4 linked regions of the Homo sapiens genome follow. The protein of the gene in region 1 interacts with the protein of each later gene in a pairwise test. Each region holds a gene or a part of one and is shown on either strand. Other genes may lie near its edges.

Evidence for each region. The genes of interacting proteins can lie anywhere in the genome.
Region 2: the proteins of SERPINB9 (region 1) and PLEKHM1 interact in a two-hybrid assay, tested with the Homo sapiens proteins (one large-scale study listed by BioGRID and IntAct).
Region 3: the proteins of SERPINB9 (region 1) and CCDC90B interact in a two-hybrid assay, tested with the Homo sapiens proteins (one large-scale study listed by BioGRID and IntAct).
Region 4: the proteins of SERPINB9 (region 1) and IGSF21 interact in a two-hybrid assay, tested with the Homo sapiens proteins (one large-scale study listed by BioGRID and IntAct).

Annotation. Positions count from the first base shown.
Region 1 is NC_000006.12:2,892,456-2,897,380, reverse strand, and holds part of SERPINB9 (serpin B9), read left to right. Parts: intron 1-1,190; coding exon 1,191-1,328; intron 1,329-1,872; coding exon 1,873-1,990; intron 1,991-3,827; coding exon 3,828-3,970; intron 3,971-4,925. UniProt on the Homo sapiens protein: Granzyme B inhibitor.
Region 2 is NC_000017.11:45,480,202-45,485,126, reverse strand, and holds part of PLEKHM1 (pleckstrin homology domain-containing family M member 1), read left to right. Parts: intron 1-2,601; coding exon of another isoform or gene 2,602-2,642; coding exon 2,643-2,690; intron 2,691-4,925. UniProt on the Homo sapiens protein: Acts as a multivalent adapter protein that regulates Rab7-dependent and HOPS complex-dependent fusion events in the endolysosomal system and couples autophagic and the endocytic trafficking pathways.
Region 3 is NC_000011.10:83,272,348-83,277,272, reverse strand, and holds part of CCDC90B (coiled-coil domain-containing protein 90B, mitochondrial isoform 1 precursor), read left to right. Parts: intron 1-2,532; coding exon 2,533-2,634; intron 2,635-3,280; coding exon 3,281-3,322; intron 3,323-3,408; coding exon 3,409-3,480; intron 3,481-3,572; coding exon 3,573-3,626; intron 3,627-4,925.
Region 4 is NC_000001.11:18,365,393-18,370,317, forward strand, and holds part of IGSF21 (immunoglobulin superfamily member 21 precursor), read left to right. Parts: coding exon 1-305; intron 306-4,925. UniProt on the Homo sapiens protein: Involved in synaptic inhibition in the brain. Selectively regulates inhibitory presynaptic differentiation through interacting with presynaptic NRXN2.

The sequences.
Region 1 (4,925 bases):
GATTCTCCTGCCTCAGCCTCCCAAGTAGCTGGGATTACCAGCAAGCATCACCACACCCGGCTAATTTTCGTATTTTTAGTAGAGACAGGATTTCGCCATCTTGGCCAGGCTGGTCTTGAACTCCTGACCTCAAGTGATCTGCCCGCCTCGGCCCCCCAAAGTGCTGGGATTACAGGCATGAGCCACTGTGCCCAGCCTAGAAGAATATTTTAAATATTTGTTTAGAAGAGGATTTTTTGTGTTTTTTTTTTTTTTTTGACATGGTCTTGCTCTGTCTCCTAGGCTGGAGTGCAGCAGCTTGATCATAGCTCACTGCAGCCTCAAAGTCCTGGGCTCCAGCAATCCTCCCATCTCAGCCTTCCAAGTAGCTGGGACCACAGGCACACACCATCATGCCCAGCTAAGTGGAGATGGGATCTTGCAATGTTGCCCAGGCTAGCCTCAAACTCTTGGGCTCAAACAATCCTCCTGCCTTGGCCTCCAAAAGTGCTGGGATTATAGGCATGAGCCACTGTGCCTGGCCTAGAAAAGTATTTTAATTTTTACTTTGAAGAGTTAATTATTTAGAAAAGTGTTTTCAGTAATATTTTGTAGGTGATTTTCATTTTGTTGGCATTTTATTTATAATGCTGATTTTTTGTTACTACATTGAAGTTAGAGAATATGATCTATATAATTCTGTATTTCAGAATGTATTGGGATGTTGAGACTTTTCTTATGGCCCAATATGTGTGATATATTTTGAAATATTTAATATACACACATGTAGTCCCTATAGGGTACAATTTTAATAACTGTGTTATTGTCTTATTAATCACATTGCTCATGTAATATCCTTGTTTCCTTTTGAGGATTCTGATGATTGTATTTCCGTCTATTTTTCCATGCATTTTTTCTGCTTTTAACTTTTTAACTGCATCTTTTTTTTTCACTATAAATTTTAGAGGTAATTTTCCCACCACTTAGGGTACATTTATATTTTCCTTTTGATGCAAGATTTTATCACAACCTCTTTTCTGAGCTTTTCTCACCCTTGTCATTTTTTGTGTGTTACTGATCTTTAAACAAGCGAGATCCATTCAGGCAGAATGGCTACATCTTTTACTCGCCTGTTTTCTGTCCCCTCTCTCTCCTCTCCCCAGCCATCAAAGAGCTATCTTGATAACTTTTAAAATTATCTTTCACAACAGGCACTGTCTTTAAACACAGAGGAAGACATTCATCGGGCTTTCCAGTCGCTTCTCACTGAAGTGAACAAGGCTGGCACACAGTACCTGCTGAGAACGGCCAACAGGCTCTTTGGAGAGAAAACTTGTCAGTTCCTCTCAGTAAGTTGAATCAATAGAACAATAAAAGTTGCATTCAACATACCTGGTGATATAGAGTCTGGGAGAAAGACCCTAGAGAAATTGAGAAATTTATGTTAACCAATTTAAAAAAATTGCACTATTTTTTTTTCTAAGATGGGGTCTCACTACGTTGCCCAGGCTGGTCTTAAACTCCTGGTCTCAAGTGATCCTCCTGCCTGTTGGGATTACAGATGTGAGCCACCACGCCCAGCCTAAACTTCTTTTTTTTTTTAAAGACTGCAATTCTATAATTATACCTTGCATTAGTATTGCAAAAGTAGTCTCTACTTTTCTTGAAAGGTAAAATTGAAAGGTAAAATTCTCAAGTTCATTTCTGGTTATTCAGGGTTCAATACATACCTATTCACAAACTCTGATATTTTAACATATCTTCATATGATCACTTTTAAAGAGTTATGTATATTCTTTTTATTAAAAAAAGATAACATATTTAGAATTTTTGGAAGTTTGCTGACATTTGTATTTAGCAATGCAGCCTCACTGAACATTTTTCTCTCCAAAGACGTTTAAGGAATCCTGTCTTCAATTCTACCATGCTGAGCTGAAGGAGCTTTCCTTTATCAGAGCTGCAGAAGAGTCCAGGAAACACATCAACACCTGGGTCTCAAAAAAGACCGAAGGTCAGAATGACAAGTTATTGCACCTTCCTCCCAACCCGTCCTCCTCCTGCGGCTCTTCCTATTCCTCCTTCCCGCCTCTTATATCCTCTCTCCTCCTCCTCTCCCTCCTATCCCTCCTCCCTCTCCTCACCCACCTCCACCTCTCCACTCCGCCCCCTCTAATTTCACGGGTGTTTCAGATGGTCAGAGTAGTGTTGACTGGCAGGGCCTCCTGGCATACTGAACCTTGATGGACTCATAAAGGTTCTGATCAGACATTCAGGTTTTCAGCAACAGAGATTTACTTTTGTCTATTCTCCCAGGACCAGAGTAGCTGATACAAATGTCAAAAGAGGGCCAGCCACGGTGGCTCTCGCCTGTAATCCCAGCAATTTAGAAGGCCGAAGTGGACATATCACTTGAGGTCAGGAGTTCGAGACCAGCCTGACCAACATGGTGGGACCCCCCCCCGCCCAACATCTCTACTAAAAATACAAAAATTAGCCAGGTGTGGTGGCCCATGCCTGTAATCCCAGCTGCTTGGGAGGCTGAGACATGAGAATCACTTGAACCTGGGAGGCAGAAGTTGTAGTGAGCTGAGATCATGCCACTGAACTCCAGCCTGTCTCAAAAACAAAAAACAAACAAAAAAACAAATGTCAAAAGAATCTCAGGCCAGGTTTCCAGTTTAATAACTTGCATTAAAATATACTCTCCCTGGCCTGTAACATTCACATGTCAGGTGACTCCATTGTCTCTGCGAGAAGGAGATTGGTGGACAGATCTTGCCTGAGGTATACACTTGGGCTGCCTCTTCCTAGGTTCTGGGGGACCTCCATCACCATTACCTTTACCTGCTAAGGTCACTCCTGACTTTTCATGTCTTCCACTTAAGCTCCTTTAGTTTGACTTGATAAGCCTACATTTGATTGGTTAACTGCCGACCCTCTCTCAGGGCTGATCAGTTCCACAGACTGAAAATACCCTCCATTTGGGGTTGAACCTTATTCATCTACATTTCAGAAAGTGACGTGTTCCAGTCTAGGCCTCCAAGACCAATGATGGTCTGATGAACCATTCAGACTCCTCTGCGCCAATTATGCTTAGTACCACCAGGAACATTTCCATTTCTGTGAATAAATGAGACGGTAAAGAATGGGAGACGTTCTTCGCTTAAAGTCTCAGCAGTTGTTTCCCGCATTCCTGCTTGGAGTATTTACCACGGATGCTCTCTTCAGGCAGTGGGTTAGCAGGGATGCCCTCAGTTCATTGAAACAGTACCACTTGATCTCCAGGGAAAGAAGGGGTGATCTTTGTTTGCCCACATCCTCTTTTCCAGGGATGCCTAGTGCTTTGTTGAGGGGATTCAGCAGGAATATCTCCTCCAAAAGCTTCTGGAAACTCCCCATGTGCCCAATGTCAGCTCTTCCCGCTTTGAGCCGTCCATTCTGGTTGCTTCTGACATGTCCATGTATAGTCACAGAATGTTAGAACTGGGTGTGATCATGAAGGGTTGGATCAAACACTCCAATTAACCATGTGAGACAAACACCCCTTCAGCCTATCACATTTCCTGCTGGTCTTGTTCTCCAACCTGGTGTAATTTTTCTACTTTGTACCAACCTGCTTTCCTCGAGTGACTTAGGTATCTTTCACCATCCTCAACTTGGTGGATGTTCTCAAGGTGTCAGTAATCATGAATACCACTCATATGTGCTGTTTTTATTTCTCTACATAACAACCCAAACTCAGCAAAGTTGAAAACAGAAGTTTGCTTCTCAACTAATGATCCAGGATCATCCAATGCATCAGGTTCTTATAAAAAGCAACTGAATGTAGTCTCTACTTTTCTTGAAAGGTAAAATTGAAGAGTTGTTGCCGGGTAGCTCAATTGATGCAGAAACCAGGCTGGTTCTTGTCAATGCCATCTACTTCAAAGGAAAGTGGAATGAACCGTTTGACGAAACATACACAAGGGAAATGCCCTTTAAAATAAACCAGGTGGGGGAAGCTTTTTAAAATCCTGCTAGTTTGATGAAGAAGTTGAATGGAAAGATTTAACTTTGTAAAAGTGTAAGTGACATAAGCGTAAGCCAAAAGGAATTTGAAACTTAAAGTATTTCTGAATGAATTTCTTAACTCAGTAGAAAAAAACGGAAGGAGTAAAAGATATTTGCTGCATATATATATTATATATACGTATATATAATATATATATATATATGTAGTGTTTTATCACTGCTCTTAACTGCCTTTGATAATTTCTCATAAACCATTGCTGCCACCTAGTTTTGGAAACTAAAGATCTTCCTATAAGCCCAATTTACTTGGCTAGAAAGCAAAAAAAAAAAAAAAAAAGTGTTAAGGTAGTGTGATATGTGGGAGTGAGAGGCAGTATAGGGCAGGGTAGAGGGAGAGAAGGTGAAAACATGTGTCTTTAATTAGTTATTTTTAAAATTAAAGTAAGTTTTGATTTGAATTGTTAACTAATTATCATTAATTCAGTATTTACAGCTTTTTAATATTAAAACTTCATGACAAAGACCTTAGTTTTGACATTGAAGTAAAACTTAATTAAGGCAGGCATTAGAATAATTTGCCAAATCTTCCAGCCCCTAAAAAGATACTATTTTAATGTAATTAAAAAACAAAAGCAGGTAACCCTCCTGCATTTTTTGTAAGGTGTACTTTAACTTAAAAAAATTAGTTCTCTAGTTGCAAAGGGTGGGAGGAGGAGAATTCTAACCCTGGTTTTAGAACTATTTTAATTTTTATAATAAATGATCTGTATCAATTTTTTAAAGTATTACGTTAATAAATGTAATACTTTGCTGAGCTTCTATGTGCTTATGCCTCTTCTGTATTTTAAAAAAGTTATTTCATTAGAGTATCAGAATTGAAAAGATTGGGTTAAAATACATTACTACATATGTAGGTCGTTACTCTTTCTGAGAGA
Region 2 (4,925 bases), on another chromosome or scaffold:
GGGAGCAGACTATGGTGAAGGGTGAGGCAGTCAGATGGGGCTGTAGTCAGGACTGAGGGCTCTTCTGGCCATCTGCAGCACCCGGCCTGTTACTGGGTCTGCAGGAACCATCCTCCATACATGCCTGCTTCCTCCTGAGGGACCTGACTTAGGGAGGTTGGCTCTGGGTCCTGACTCCCTGTGTCCTGTTTGCCCTCTGCTATCCCCAGAAGCCAGAGATCCAATCAGAGCACCTTCCACCATTTAGGGCCAGCCTGCCTGTCTGCTTTCCAAACCTCATGCTGCTCCAGGGCTGTCCAGGAAACCTTTCCTGCCACACTGGCCTTAATGTTCCCCTGCACCCCCTGTTCCCGGCCCCCAGCGAAAGGGTCTTCCCAGACCACCCCTGGAATCCTAGCTCTGAGGTGATGGCACTGTTGATGAAAAAGCCAAACTCTGTTAAATATTCGAAGAGGTTTATTCTGAGCCAAATGTGAGGGCCATGACCTGTGACATAGTCCTGGGAGGTCCTGAGAACATGTGCCCAAGGTGATTGGGGTACAGCTTGATTTTTATCCAAGTTACAGGCAGAAGTTACAGGCAAAGACATAAATTGATATATGTAAGGTATACATTGGTGGGGACAGGGTAAGGTGGATTAAAAGATTTTCCTGATTGGCAATTGGCTGAAAAAGTTAAACTTTGCCTAAAGAGTTAAAAGTCAGCAGAAGAAAAGCTTGGGGTTAAGATAAGGTGGGTTGTGAAAGCCAAGGTTCATGTAACGTAGATGAAGCCTTCAAGAGAATAGATGGTAAATGTCTCTAAGGTGTCAGACTCTTAGTTAAATCTCCTCTAAATCAGGAAAAGGCCTAGAAAGGGAAGGGAATCTCTGCAGGACATAAATTTTCCCAACAAGAGATGGCTTTGCAGGGCCATTCCAAACTATGTCAAAAATATACTTGGGGGTAAGATACTTTGATTTCCTTAGGGCCTGTTATCTCCCATGTGATGTTAGACCAGTCAGGTTGGAGTTGGTATCTTAATTGCTGAGAGTCTGTTCTGTCAGTCTTAGGAGTCTGTTTTAATGTTAATGCTGGTCAGTTGTGTCTAAGCTCCAAAAGGGAGAGGCTAGGATGAGGCATGGCCCACGCCCCACTTCGTGTCATGGCCTGAACTCAGTTTTCAGTTTTTTTGAAATCCCTTTGGCCAAGGGGGGCCCATTCAGGCAGTTGGGGAGCTTAGAATTTTATTTTTGGTTTACAGCACTCACTCAGGAATCGGGTTTTCCTAGGGCTGGGGTTGGCTTCCTCCTGGGGGCTGGTGGTGGAGTCAGGCCGCTTATCAGCCCTGGGACCTCAGGAACTTCCTTGACCTGGGTCAGCTGCCATTTCCTTATCTGTCAGGTGGAGACAATAAAACAGCACTCCTAGGGTCCTTAGGAGGAACATAAATTAGGCAATATATGTAAAGAGAACTGAGCCCATTTAACTTTTCTTGGTTTTGTTAACTTCTTTGTGCGGTGATTGAGAGCTGAGACAGACATCACCTTTCCCTTTCCCCTGATGCTCAGCCAGGAGTTGGCTAGAGATTTGTTTACGTGTGAATGTGCCTGCCTGGCCCAGGTCTGTCCAAGTTGCTGTGGTGGGGCCAAGCCAGTCAGCAGCCCCCTCAGGCTCAGGCTAAAGTCCCCACCCCACCCGCCCCACCCCACCCCACCCCACCCCACCCCACCCACTTCCAGGAGGAAGCTGGCAGCCCTGAGGGATTTAACCACTCACTGACTTCAGCTCTTCCTGCATACTCATTTAGGTGATGACATTCTTGGTCTGTAGGTTTAGGTGGCCACATCCACTGGGATGACAGATGCCAGGTACAACATATCAGGTACAGGTACATATCAGGCCCCGTGACAGGCATTTTACACATTCTCCATCTGAGAGGTCTGAGCATGCCTACCTGGTTAGTGGCAAACTGCGATGAGACCTCATGGTCATCCCGGTTAGACACGTCCCTGTCTGTGCTGCTCAAGCCAGACCCTCGAAGCCCAAATGAGGAGCAGAAGTGTAGCAAGGGAGCCCTCCCCTTTTGAAGCCGTTCCAGTGGTACTTTTTACTGCTGAGCTGGCAGATGTTGGACTGGGACAGGAGTGAGGGGTGGGGGCAGGGTGTTGCAGGACCCAGCCCCTGAATGTGATGTGTGAGCCTGTGAGCCCCTGCTTCCTGGTCCCATTGGGTTCCTGCCACCTTCAGCTGCAGCCTCCCCCTCGAACCTGCAGCTCCGTATCTGAATCAGCCTGTCGTTCCCTGCCTACAGGTTTCAATCCTACAGGGCCTTGGCTTTCTGGGCAGCATTTGATGTGAAGCGCCCTTACCACCTACTCCTTGGGGTGGACCCACCCCTGGCACCCAGGACTCCTTGCCTCCCAACGACTAAGCCCCCTGGGCTTTCCTTCCTTGTTTCTTTCCTTCAAATCTATTATCAGTTTTTACTTTTGTGTTCTGCAAAGGCCTTTTTGGTTGCAGTTTGAGTAAGAGAGGCTGACCTCCTGCTGCTTGCTGGGAATGGACTCTGGCTGGGGGAAAGTTCCCTGCCCATTCATCTGGCTGCCATCTGTCTCTTCAGGTGTCATGTGATTCTCTGAGGGAGCAGCTGCGTGAGTGGAGATGCTTTCAGTGGTGGAGAATGGACTGGACCCCCAGGCTGCCATCCCGGTAGGTGGGTGAGGGAGGATCAAGGGCGGGGAAGGGCTGCAGGGGACAGTTGTATCATCGGCTTGGCTCACTTCCTTGGGCACTGTCCTGCAAGAGAGACCAGGTTGAGAAAAAGTTACAGCACAAGCAGGCTCTGAGGAGACCCTGTCTTTTCTAGATCACCTTATTGGTGATAAGATGGAGATTTATGAAAAGCAGTGGGAATTTAAGATCAGTAACCTGAAGACCAAGGATTTCCATTCAGCCCTTCAGCCCTCTGCCCTTAGGCCATGATTTGGTCACAGTCTGGCCAAAGCACTGAATGGGTGGGAAACAGATATTCCCAGGCACTGGTTTGTTGTTTCAGTAATGGGGGTAAATTGGTAACTTACATGTATCTGAACACTTACCATTTTCTAGGATATTCTAAATGTAATTATTTGTGAGCAGTTCACTGGAGCCCCCTAGGACCTTTTCTTGGACAGCCCTTTGCACCCTCCTGGGCTATCTTGGGTACTCCAGATAGAGCTCTCTGTTCTCTTGGAGAGGCAGGAAGTCAGGTAGCTTTGGGGCTGGTCCCTTAGCAGCATCCTGAGATGGCTTTCGGGGAGAAGCCAGGATTTCCTTTCCTCCCCACTGCTGCTTCCCAGCTCAGAGAACTCTGCTTGAAAGAAACTGTAGCTCTCAGAGACGTGCCTTTCCCCGTCCTGGCCACAGGAGAGTCCAGCTCCACCTGTTTCCCAGCTGGCTTTCATGCAGAGGCTCTTCCCTCCCCTCTGCACCCCCACTCTCCCACCCCCAGTGCCTGCCGAATCCCACCCCAGGACCCTCCAGAGCTAGGGCAGAAGCCTGGCCAACCCAGCCTTCTAACAACAGCTGCACAAACTGACTCCATGAGGGTATGCCTTTCTTGAGGGTATGCCTTATTTCTCCCTGTATACCCTAACCCAACACCTAGTAGGTGCTCAATTGAACGAAGTATGTATGTACTTTTTAAATATAATATACAAATAACATCTTGCTTTTAAAAGAACATTTAAAATTAGACTATTTCAAGATTAAAAACTTTTGAGCTTCAAAGGATACTACCAAGAAAATGAAAAGACAACCCACAGAATGGGAGAAAATATTTGCAAATCAAATATCTGATAAGGGTCTAGTATCCAGAATGTATAAAGAACACTTATAACTCAACAATAAAAAGACAAATAATCCAGTTATAAAATGGGTAAAGGATTTAAATAGACCCTTCTCCAAAGAAGATACACACATGGCCAATAAAGATGCTCATTATCATTAGACATCAGGAAAATGCACATCGAAACCACAGTGAGATACTACTTCACACCCCCTAGGATGGCTGTAATAAAAAAGGCAATAACTAGTGCTGGCAAAAATGTGGAGAGATTGGAACTCATATATTGCTGGTGGGAATGTAAAATAGTGCAGCCACTTTGGCACACAGTTTGGCAGTTCCTTGATAAGTTAAACATAGGGTTATGTGTACAGTTCCACTCCTAGATATATACCCAAGAGAACTAGAAATATAAGTCCACTCAAAAACTTGTACATGGATGTTCATAGCAGCATTATTGATAATAGCAAAAGAGTAGAAACAACCCAAATGTCTATTAACTGATGAATGGATGAATAAAATGTGGTATATCTAGGCAGCGGAATATTTTCTGGCAATAAAAAGGGATGAAGTCCTGATACATGCTACAACATGATGGAAAATATGCTAAGTGAAATAAGTCAGATTCAAAGGGTCATATGCTGTATTGATATCTATTCATGTGAGATGTACAAAATATGCAAAGCCACAGAAACAGAAAATAGATTAGTGACTGCATTCACTTCGTATTCCCCTTTCTCCCAGCCCCTGGCAATCACTAATATACAGTATTTCTTTTTGGGGTGATGAAAATCGTTTTTTTTGTTTGTTTTTTTGTTTTTTTGTTTTTTTGTTTTTTTGAGACGGAGTCTCCCTCTGCTGCCCAGGCTGGAGTGCAGTGGCACAATCTTGACTCACTACAAACTCCACCTCCCAGGTTCAAGTGATTCTCATGCCTCTGCCTCCCAAGTAGCTGGGATTATGGGTGTGCACCACCATGCCCGGCTAATTTTTGTATTTTTGGTAGAGATGGGGGTTTCACCATGTTGGCCAGGCTGGTCTCGAACTCCTGACCTCAGGTGATCCACTCGTCTTGGCCTCCCGAAGTGCTGGGATTATAGGCGTGAGCCACTGTGCCCGGC
Region 3 (4,925 bases), on another chromosome or scaffold:
ACTGATACTTTTAATAAAGTAATTTTGTCTTAAATTTTTAAGTTTACCTATAATATAGGGAGTGAAATAAAGCTGTGATTTGAGGAATATTTGTGCTGCCAGGACCATTTAATCCTATATACAAGAGGTAGGATTGAGTATAGAAATATCACTATTAAACTTTTGGCTTTTTTATTACTGCTGTCTGAAGTTAAATAATCCTGTTCTGTTCTTGAACCTAATTCAATTGCTGACCCCACCTCTAGTATAGAATAAGGCACAGAGATGTCATGAAGGGTGAAGCTAAGGCTCAGGGTCATAGGCCATTAAGCTGCATACTTGATCACTTCAGAAAGGGCCATATGAAAACAAGTCAGCTAGCAGGATGAGGGGGAAAAAATAAAATAATAAAGTCTTATTCTGAAAATTTGATTATATTGTGATTTTGATTAAAATCTGAATATTCTCTGATGGCTCCATAGTAGTTTAAAAAAATCACACTTTTAATAGATTTAGCTACTTAACAATGGATTATGTGTACATTTAAAGTTGTTACAGATGGACACCTGTGCAGTTTTGTAGGCTTTTTGAGTCTGTATTTAAAGGAAGAATGAGGTAAAAAGAGGCTCTTAAGAGCCACATTAAGGCTGGTGTGGTGGCTCACGCCTGTAATCCCAGCACTTCAGGAGGCTGAGGTGAGCAGATCACTTGAGGTCAGAAGTTCGAGACCAGCCTGGCCAACGTGGCAAAACCCTGTCTCTACTAAAAATACAAAAAAATTAGCCAGGCATGATGGTGGGTGCATGTGGTCCCAGCTACTCAGGAGGCTGAGGCACGAGAATCACTCGAACCCAGGAAGTGGAGGCTGCAGTGAGACAAGATTGCGCCACTGCATTCCAGCCTGAGTGACAGAGCAAGGCTCTGTCTCAAAAAGGCCACAGTACAATCCCTTATTTTCAGGTTCAGACACCACAAGAAGTCTGTAATTAGCTTTCCAACTTCTATGTAATCTCAGTAATAAGAATACATTATTTTTAATGTCATATAATTCCTTTATAGTGATATTTGGGGCAAACACGACTGCCAGCCCCTAGAGGCCACATCTGTGTGACTTCTGAATTAATTCTCATAAAATATGTCAAGCAGAACTGAATAAAAGAAAATGAACAACCCTCCCCAGTAATATATGAGGGTTAGAAAAGGCATGAGTCAGCAATGTCTGTTGTACACAGTTAAAAACTTTTATGTATTATAAGAAGTCCAAACTTCCTCCACATTAATACATTAGCATTAGACTATCCTGCTTCAGCCATTAGATCCCTGTCCCATCGGTAATAATAATAGCTAACATCTCAGTGCTAACCATATGCCAAGTACTGTCTTAAGCATTATATGTACATAATCTCATTTAATCCTCAAAACAACTCTTTAAGTTGTACCAGGTACTGTTACTATTTCCATTTTACCAATGAGGAGACCAGAGAAGTTAAATGACTTGCTGGCATCTCACAGTAAATGGCAGAGTTTGGGTTCAAACCTAGACAGCCTGACTCCAGAACTCACACTCTTTTTTGGGCTTTCTTGTTTTATTTCTAAACTGTTATACAGAGTCCTTAATAAGGTTATACCTCATCTGCTTTTTCTTTTGGTAAAGGATAGAGAAATTAGCAAGCTACCTGATTTTAAGAAGTTTAGTGCTACAGGTTGAATATCCCTTATCTGAAATGCTTGGGACCAGAATTGTTTCAGATTTCAAATTTTTTTTTTTTTTTTTGGAATATTTGCAATACAGTTACCAGTTGAGCATCCCAAATCTGAAATCCAAAATACTCCAATGCACATTTCCTTTGAGTGTTATGTCAGCACTCAAAAAGTTCCAGATTTTGGATTTCAGATTTTTGGATTAGGGATATTCAATCTGTAACAGTTATATTTTCTTTGTAAGGCTGTCTTAAATCATTTCTACAAAATTGTCCCTCCCTAACGAGGCAAAAGCTTATAAATCTATCAGGTAAGTGCTACCTTTCACATATTCTTTGTAGTGCCAAATAATAGGGAGGATACCCAGGAATTTAAACAAAATTGGTTATGTTGTGCGGACAAAGGGCAATTATTTTAACTATACATCTATTTTGTTTTACTGCCTGACTTCTGAGTCGTATCCAATACCATGGAATTTTCCAGTGGTAGAAAATCTCTCAAAATCAAAGTAATAAGAGATAAAACCCTTTCCATCTGGGTATTCAAAAAATAAGAACAAAACATTATTTTTTTTGAGGAACTCTTAGGGTCTAAGGAAGCATTTTATTGAGATTCTTTTCATTCAAAGGCCTACAAATTTATCTCTCTTCACTAGGAAATCCTTTTTTTCTTCCTTGAATCTCTTTCTTTTCATTTTGATATTTCAGATATGTAGGTTTCATATTTACTTAACCAGTCAACATTATACCTTGTAGCATGTTAACAAATTCATTTAAATTTCATGAAAACAATTCTGTAAATAAAAAGATGGCTTTCTATAGATCACTAGGTTATTTTTATTTTGTTTTCTAGGAAATAACAGTACAACAGCTAATGGCTCATTTGGATGCTATCAGGAAAGACATGGTCATCCTAGAGAAAAGTGAATTTGCAAATCTGAGAGCAGAGAATGAGGTGATACAAATTTTAATTTATTACTTATAAAATAACTGATCTCATAATAAGCATCCTACTTAAGGAATAAGTTAATAAGACCAAGTAATAATTCCATGTGGTTAGTAAACAATAAGTTTTTAGATTTAAAAACATACTATTTGTTTAACCATACCTAATCTTTTTCTATATAAATCATAGTGCTTTGCATACTGAAGAGAATAAGAGTTACATTTTATACATATAAAACCACATAAAACAAAATCTTTGAGCTATATATATAAAATTTGTATATAATGGTTTCAGAGCTGAGAGTAATACGGCATTTTCTATTTTATTTAATCCTGTACTAAATGTCTTTGTGACTTAAAAGTATATTTCTGTAATTAAGTCAGAATTTTAAGTTATGTTATCCACTATAGCTTATTTTTAAATTTAGAAAATCAGTTTTTAAAAGTATAATATAAAAACAAATGCATTTTGCTCATAAGAATTATTTTCTGAATACAGTGGCTTACTAGTTTCTTTTGAAGATTTTTTTCCTTATCAATTCTGTATTAGAAATCCATAGATTGTCCAAATTTTGGTAATCTAGGGTTTCAGATTTTTTTAATCATAATATAGACTTGGTTTAATGCTAATTGCATGTGATCTTTCCTGTACCTAGAAAATGAAAATTGAATTAGACCAAGTTAAGCAACAACTAATGGTAAGTGAATTTTTTTTCTAGCTGTTAATTTCAGAACAAATATTCGTTACAAGATCATTTTTTAAATATCTTTGCTTTCTTTAAAGCATGAAACCAGTCGAATCAGAGCAGATAATAAACTGGATATCAACTTAGAAAGGAGCAGAGTAACAGATATGGTAATGTTCTTTTAAATGTACTTTCTTGGTTACTTACTCCTTTTTTATTTTTAGACTTTTTTTTTAACTTCCTGCTGCTTCATATCCTATAGTTTACAGATCAAGAAAAGCAACTTATGGAAACAACTACAGAATTTACAAAAAAGGTAAAGTAATATGTAAAAATGTCTCTTTTGTACAGTTCTTGTGCCTTGTATAACTGCTTTTATGTGTACCAGTTTATAAGTTTAGACTTTTAAAAACTACCCTTGTAGAGTCTCTGGCTTCCTCATAGCTATTATAGTTAACCAGCACTTTTGGGGAACCTGGCACCAGGTAGATGGTCGCCCATGAGCCATGACCTTGAAGTAAGAATCAAGATTTCCACATAGTGTGCTTTTTTAAACTAAATTACTTCTATAATAGAAAATAACTATTTTTTGGGCCAGGCACAGTAGCTCACACCTGTTAATCCTGCACTTTGGGAGGCTGAGGCAGGAGTTCAAGACCAGTCTGGGCAACATAGCAAGACCCTGTCTCAAAAACAAAAAAAAAAAAAAGAAAATAACTATTTTTTAAAAGACAAAGATTCACTATTGGTATTTCATAATTGGTACTTAAATGAGTGCCTAGGTTCAGTTAAATAATTATCTTAAGGTTTTAAAAAAGCTATATATTAATAACATATAAACACTAATATTTAGTGTTTATTTAATGTGCCAGATACCATTTTACATGCTTTACTTATATCTGTTAATTCACTTAATATTCATTTCAGTCTCTGTGAGGTAGGCACTATTATTCCCATTTTAACAATTTGGAAAATGAAGCACAGAGGGGTTAAGGTCCCACAGTTAATAAGTGGTGTCACTAGGGAAAAGAACCTGGATTCTAAATCCCTAACTTGGAACTACTGCTCTCCTTCTCAGTAATCCTACAATGTAATCATGACTTCATCTCTGTGGCTTGAGTAAAACCCAGCTTTCTGACTCAGCCTTGTCCTTTTCTTAAAAGTTCAAAGCCATTTGTCCACATTCTAACAGAAAATATGTCACTCTTGCTCATAATTTAATAGAAGAGAAGGTCACATTTGTTCTTTCAAAGATCTTATTCTCTTCCCTTACTTCTTGGCCAGATAAAGGAGATAAGCAAGGAAATCAGCAAAATCTTTTACAACTACTTTCTGTGCTCTAGGTCTCATCTGTCCTCCCTACCCTTTGTCCCCTATACCTGTATCAGTGTTACCCATCAGGTTATTTATGCCAGTTCCTTTAATACTGGCGCCAGTTCATATTATACACCTGGTTATTTTTTTTTCCATTTGCAGAATATATTTAAAGTTTTAACCATAATATCCTAAGGACTTCACACACATAAAATGATAGTTCTGTGACCTAATTTTTTGCTTCTTAGTTTATCATCTTATGTATTCAGGTATAAATATGTTATTATGAGGTTTTTAGAAT
Region 4 (4,925 bases), on another chromosome or scaffold:
GGGTGGGCGACCCTACACGGAGCGCCCCTCCCGTGGCCTGACCCCAGATCCCAACATCCTCCTCCAGCCAACCACAGAGAACATACCAGAGACGGTCGTGAGCCGTGAGTTTCCCCGCTGGGTCCACAGCGCCGAGCCCACCTACTTCCTGCGCCACAGCCGCACCCCGAGCAGTGACGGCACTGTGGAAGTACGTGCCCTGCTCACCTGGACCCTCAACCCACAGATCGACAACGAGGCCCTCTTCAGCTGCGAGGTCAAGCACCCAGCTCTGTCGATGCCCATGCAGGCAGAGGTCACGCTGGGTAAGACTTGGTGGGGGCCCTTCTGTAGAGCCCTTGCAGACCTGGGTGTGGGGAGAGCCTTGGAATAGGGTTCCTGGGCTGAGGACAGCCATGGAAAGGGGGAGGAGATGGAGCAAACTGGAGTCAGGATGAGCACAAATGGTAGAGTCAGGTTCTTAGGGAGGTTTGCTGAGCTGGATTGGAGAAGATGGGAGGTACCCACAGGCCAAGGTAGTTTGCTGGGTTGAGCCAAGAACATGAGAGGTCAGAAGAGTTTGCTGGATAGGGTCAGGGACACAGGAGATCAGGGGAGGTCAGAGGAGTTCCTGGATTAGATCAGGAACATGGGAGGTCTAGGAGGTCTTCTGGAAGGGTCAGAAACAAGAGATTGAGGAGATTTGCTGGGTTGGGTCAGGAACATAAGAGGTTGGGGAAAAGCAAGGGAGTCACTGGGCTGGGTCAGCAACATGAGAGGTCAGGGAGTTTGTACAGTCCAGATAAAAAAGATGGAAAGTCAGAGAAATATGCTGGATTGGTGTTAAAAACAGGGGAGGTTTTCTAGGTCAAAACTGGAACCAGGATGTTTGCTGGGTAAATAAAGTATACACAAGAGTCGGGTTTCTTCAGGAAGGGTTGCTGAGTCAAGTCAGAAGCATAGGTCAGCGTGAAGACCAGGGGAGGTCAAGATTTTTCTAGTCAGCCTCAGGAGCACAAGAGATCAGGGGACATTTGTCGGATCAAGGAGAGGAACCTTGAGGTCATGGCATGCTCAGGGGAGTTTTCTACATCACAGGTGGGAACATGGGAGGTGACAGGGAGATTTTCTGGATTGCATATGAGCCCAGTGAGCTCAGAGGACAGTTGCTGCATAAGGGTTGCAAACCTGGGAGGTTGCAGGCTTTGCTGGATCGGGTTCGAGAATTCTGAAAGTCATAGGAATTTTTGCCAGGTTGGGGTCAGGAACACATAGGACATGGAAGGATATCACTCCGGCTTACACTTTTAAGTACAATGAAAACCCTGTCATCTGTGGGTATGTGGGAGGCAGGCAAAGAGGACACTGGCTGCCCAGAGACAGCTCAGCCCAAGAATCTAATCCATGTCCATGATCTGCACCTCTCCCCACAGAGCACCAACCCAGGGATCCCCAAAGCAGTTCCCTGGTAACTCACTCTCTTCCCCTTATACTGGTCCTCCCCACTGACTCAGGGCAGGGAAAGGGGAGATGTGGAATCTTCGTTGCTGAAAATATACAAGACTCATCTCCAGTTGTTTGTATGGACTGGGTGGGCGAGGGCAGGGGATGGGCACGATGACCTGTGCTTGTCCTTTCCCCTATGTCCTTTGAACCTTGATTTGCAGCCCCCAGCAGCTCCTCCCTGAGCCCGAGATGCCTGGGCTCATACTCCAAAACTCCTGTAGTGTCAGGGGCTGCCTGGAGCAGTCCACAGCCTCTAACCCAGGCCACTCATGACCAAGGACTGAGAGCAGTAACTGACAAGAATTGGGACTGCAGCTTGTGTCAGGTGTTCTAGAGAGCTTCTGTTTCATCTGGACCATCAGAAAACCCAACACCTCCTCAGTATCAAATACCAAAGAAAAGGATTTCTTGTACGGATAGTATGTACTATGTGCCAGGAACATCTGCAAGGATTCTCATCCAATCCTCACAAGCACAAGTTGGCTGTGTAGTCTCATTTTGCATATGAGCAAAACTGAGGCTCAAGTTGGTAGAGTACTTTGCCAAGTCGTTAACTTTGTATGTAGCGGCGTTGAAATTTCAAGCCAAGTTTATTGGTGCCTTCTTCACTCACTACCATGCCAACCACTGAACTCACCAGCCCCAGGATGTGGTGTCTTGACTGGTTATGGGACTGGTTCCCTGAAGACCCATTACAATGGACCTTTGATATTCTCTCTCTCTCTCTTTTTTTTTTTTTTTTTTTTTTGACAGAGTCTGGCTCTGTCACACCCAGGCTGGAGTGCAGTGGGTGATCTTGGCTCACTGCAACCTCAGCCTCCCAGGTTCAAGTGATTCTCCTGCCTCAGTCTCTCAAGTAGCTGGGATTACAGGTGCCTTCCACCACATCCTGCTAATTTTTTTTTTTAATAGAGGTGGGGTTTCACCATATCGGCCAGGCTGGTCTCAAACTCCCAACCTCAGGTGATCCACCTGCCTCGGCCTCCAAAGTGCTGGGGTTACAGACGTGAGCCACCGCACCCAGCAGCCTTTTGATTTTCACAGGCCACCTGCCCATACAGAAACTAAAAATAAAGGCTAACATTTAGTGAGCACCTACTATATGCCACAGACTGTGGCCTCTCTTATATTAACCCAGTGAGACAGGCACCATTATTATCCCATGTCACAGAGGAGGAAGCTGAGGCTCAGGGAAGTTAAGTTGCCCAAGGTGAGTGGGGGAGAATTCAAAGGCTCCAGAGTCTGCTCTAAGCCTCTCACTCTGCCTCCTCACGGCGTCCCTCTGTCACAGGTGCCCACTTCCTGGGTACTCTTTGTTCATCATTCCATAAAGATATCACAAGCAGGGCCAGGCACAGTGTCTCACGCCTGTAATCCTAACACTTTGGGAGGCCAAGGCGGGTGGATCATGAGGTCAGGAGTTCAAGACTAGCCTGACTAATGTGGTGAAACCCCATCTCTACTAAAAAAAAAAAATACAAAACTTAGCTGGGCTTGGTGGTGTGTGCCTATAATCCCAGCTACTCAGGAGGCTGAGACAGGAGAATCACTTGAACCCAGGAGGCAGAGGCTGCAGTGAGCCGAGATTGCACCACTGCACTCCAGCCTAGGTGATAGAGTGAGACTTCATCTCAAAAAGAAAAAAAAAAAGTTGGGGGGAAAAAAGATATTACAAGCATCACAAGGCCAGGCCCTGTACTAAGTGCTGGGATCTTCCCAACCCAGAGCCTGCTCCGACCCCTCTCTTGGTCCTCCTGCTTTTCCAGCCCTTCACTCCTCTCTCTGGACCCTCCATCCTTCCATGGCCTCTTCCTCCCCTGACAGAGCAGCCTCCACCCTTTACCTGGTTGCTTCATTTATGAAAGCCCCCTCCTGCCCCTCTTGTGGAAGCTCTGGCTTCCAGCGGGGTGGCACCCTTGCCCCACCCCACCAAGAATAAGGAGGAGAAAGATGAAAGGCCAGATACAGACTTCAAGGCAGCTGGTGAAAAGTGAGCTTGTAGCTGACATCTTCTAGTGATGAGAGGGGGTGTGCCTCTGCTGGCCTGTGTGACCCCTATCAACAGCACCCCAAACCACATTAAAGCACTTGCCTGCTCTGTCCTGGATCCCAGGCCCTCCCTTAACTGGAGCCGCCTCTGTGGGCACCCCCACTCATCATCAGAGCAAGAGAAAGAAGGGCCCACTCATAAGCAGTGGGCCTGGACAGGCAGGTCTGCACACACCGGGGGATTTGGGGCATGGGGGACACAGCAGGGCCACCAAGATGAAGGGCCCTAATTGGGTGGGTGAGTAAAGAGACACCTGGGCTGACTTCCTAGCCTCCCTCGACTGCTGAGTGAGAATTCAGACTTCTTAACGTCTCTGAGTCTCAGTTTTCTGACCTGATGAAGGGGGAGAATAGTAACTGCACAAATGTTTTGAGCACCTACTCAGAGCCAGGCTCTCTGCAAGATGCTTTCCTCACCAGGTCTCCTTTAAACCTGCAGTGAACCTGTGAGGCCGCTGAGAGTTGCTATCATATTATTCCCATCTGAGAGGTGAGGGACTCAGGTTTAGAGTAACCTTTCTTAGGTCAGCCAGCCAAGGCTGTCTGGCCCCAGATCTCACATTCTTAACCACTGTGCTCTACAGCCCACCTGTCAGGGCTGTGGTGAGACGTCACTGAGCCAGGGGATATGACCAGTGGAATGTGCCATGAGCCAAAGAGTCGTGAGTGTATGCACCTTGCACCATCAGGGCACCCTGCACTCTGGGTGAGACAGTGGGACGGATTAGATGACCTCAGAGCACAAAATCCAATCATTCAACAAGGATTTTGAAGATCAGGCCAACGAGGGTGGGATGTGTCTCCCTGCAATGAGCCTTCGCTCCTCCTCTTCCCTTGCAGGGATGCCCTCCGCAGCTGAAATGCCACCCCTCCAGGAAGATTTCTCTGACTCTCCCCCAACCCTTTGAGCTGTTTGTGCCTCTTCTCAGTTCTTGTCTCACCAGATTTGTACCTTTCTCGTAATCTGGACCACAGATGCCTGAGCGTCCTGGCACCCATCTCACTAAATGGCAACCATGTCCTTCCCATTGATCAAACCAGAAGCCTTGCAGACCCCTCACCTTTTCCACTCTTCCCTCCTATCCCACATGCAAACCATCATTAAGCCCTGGCAGCTCAACTTCAGAATATATCCCAAATCTGCCACTCCTCACGGTCTCCTCTCCAAATACCCAACCCAAGCACCATCAGTTCAAGCCTGGGTTATTAGAGTAGCCTTCAAACTGATCGTTCTGCTTCCACTTTCACCCTATCCTATTTCCCACCCCGATTGATCTACTTAAAATATAAATCAGATCATGACACCCGCCCAAAACCTTCCTGTGGTAGACAAATAGATTGACAAAACAGGATAGAGTCCAGAAATAGATCTACATACACAGAGTTCATTG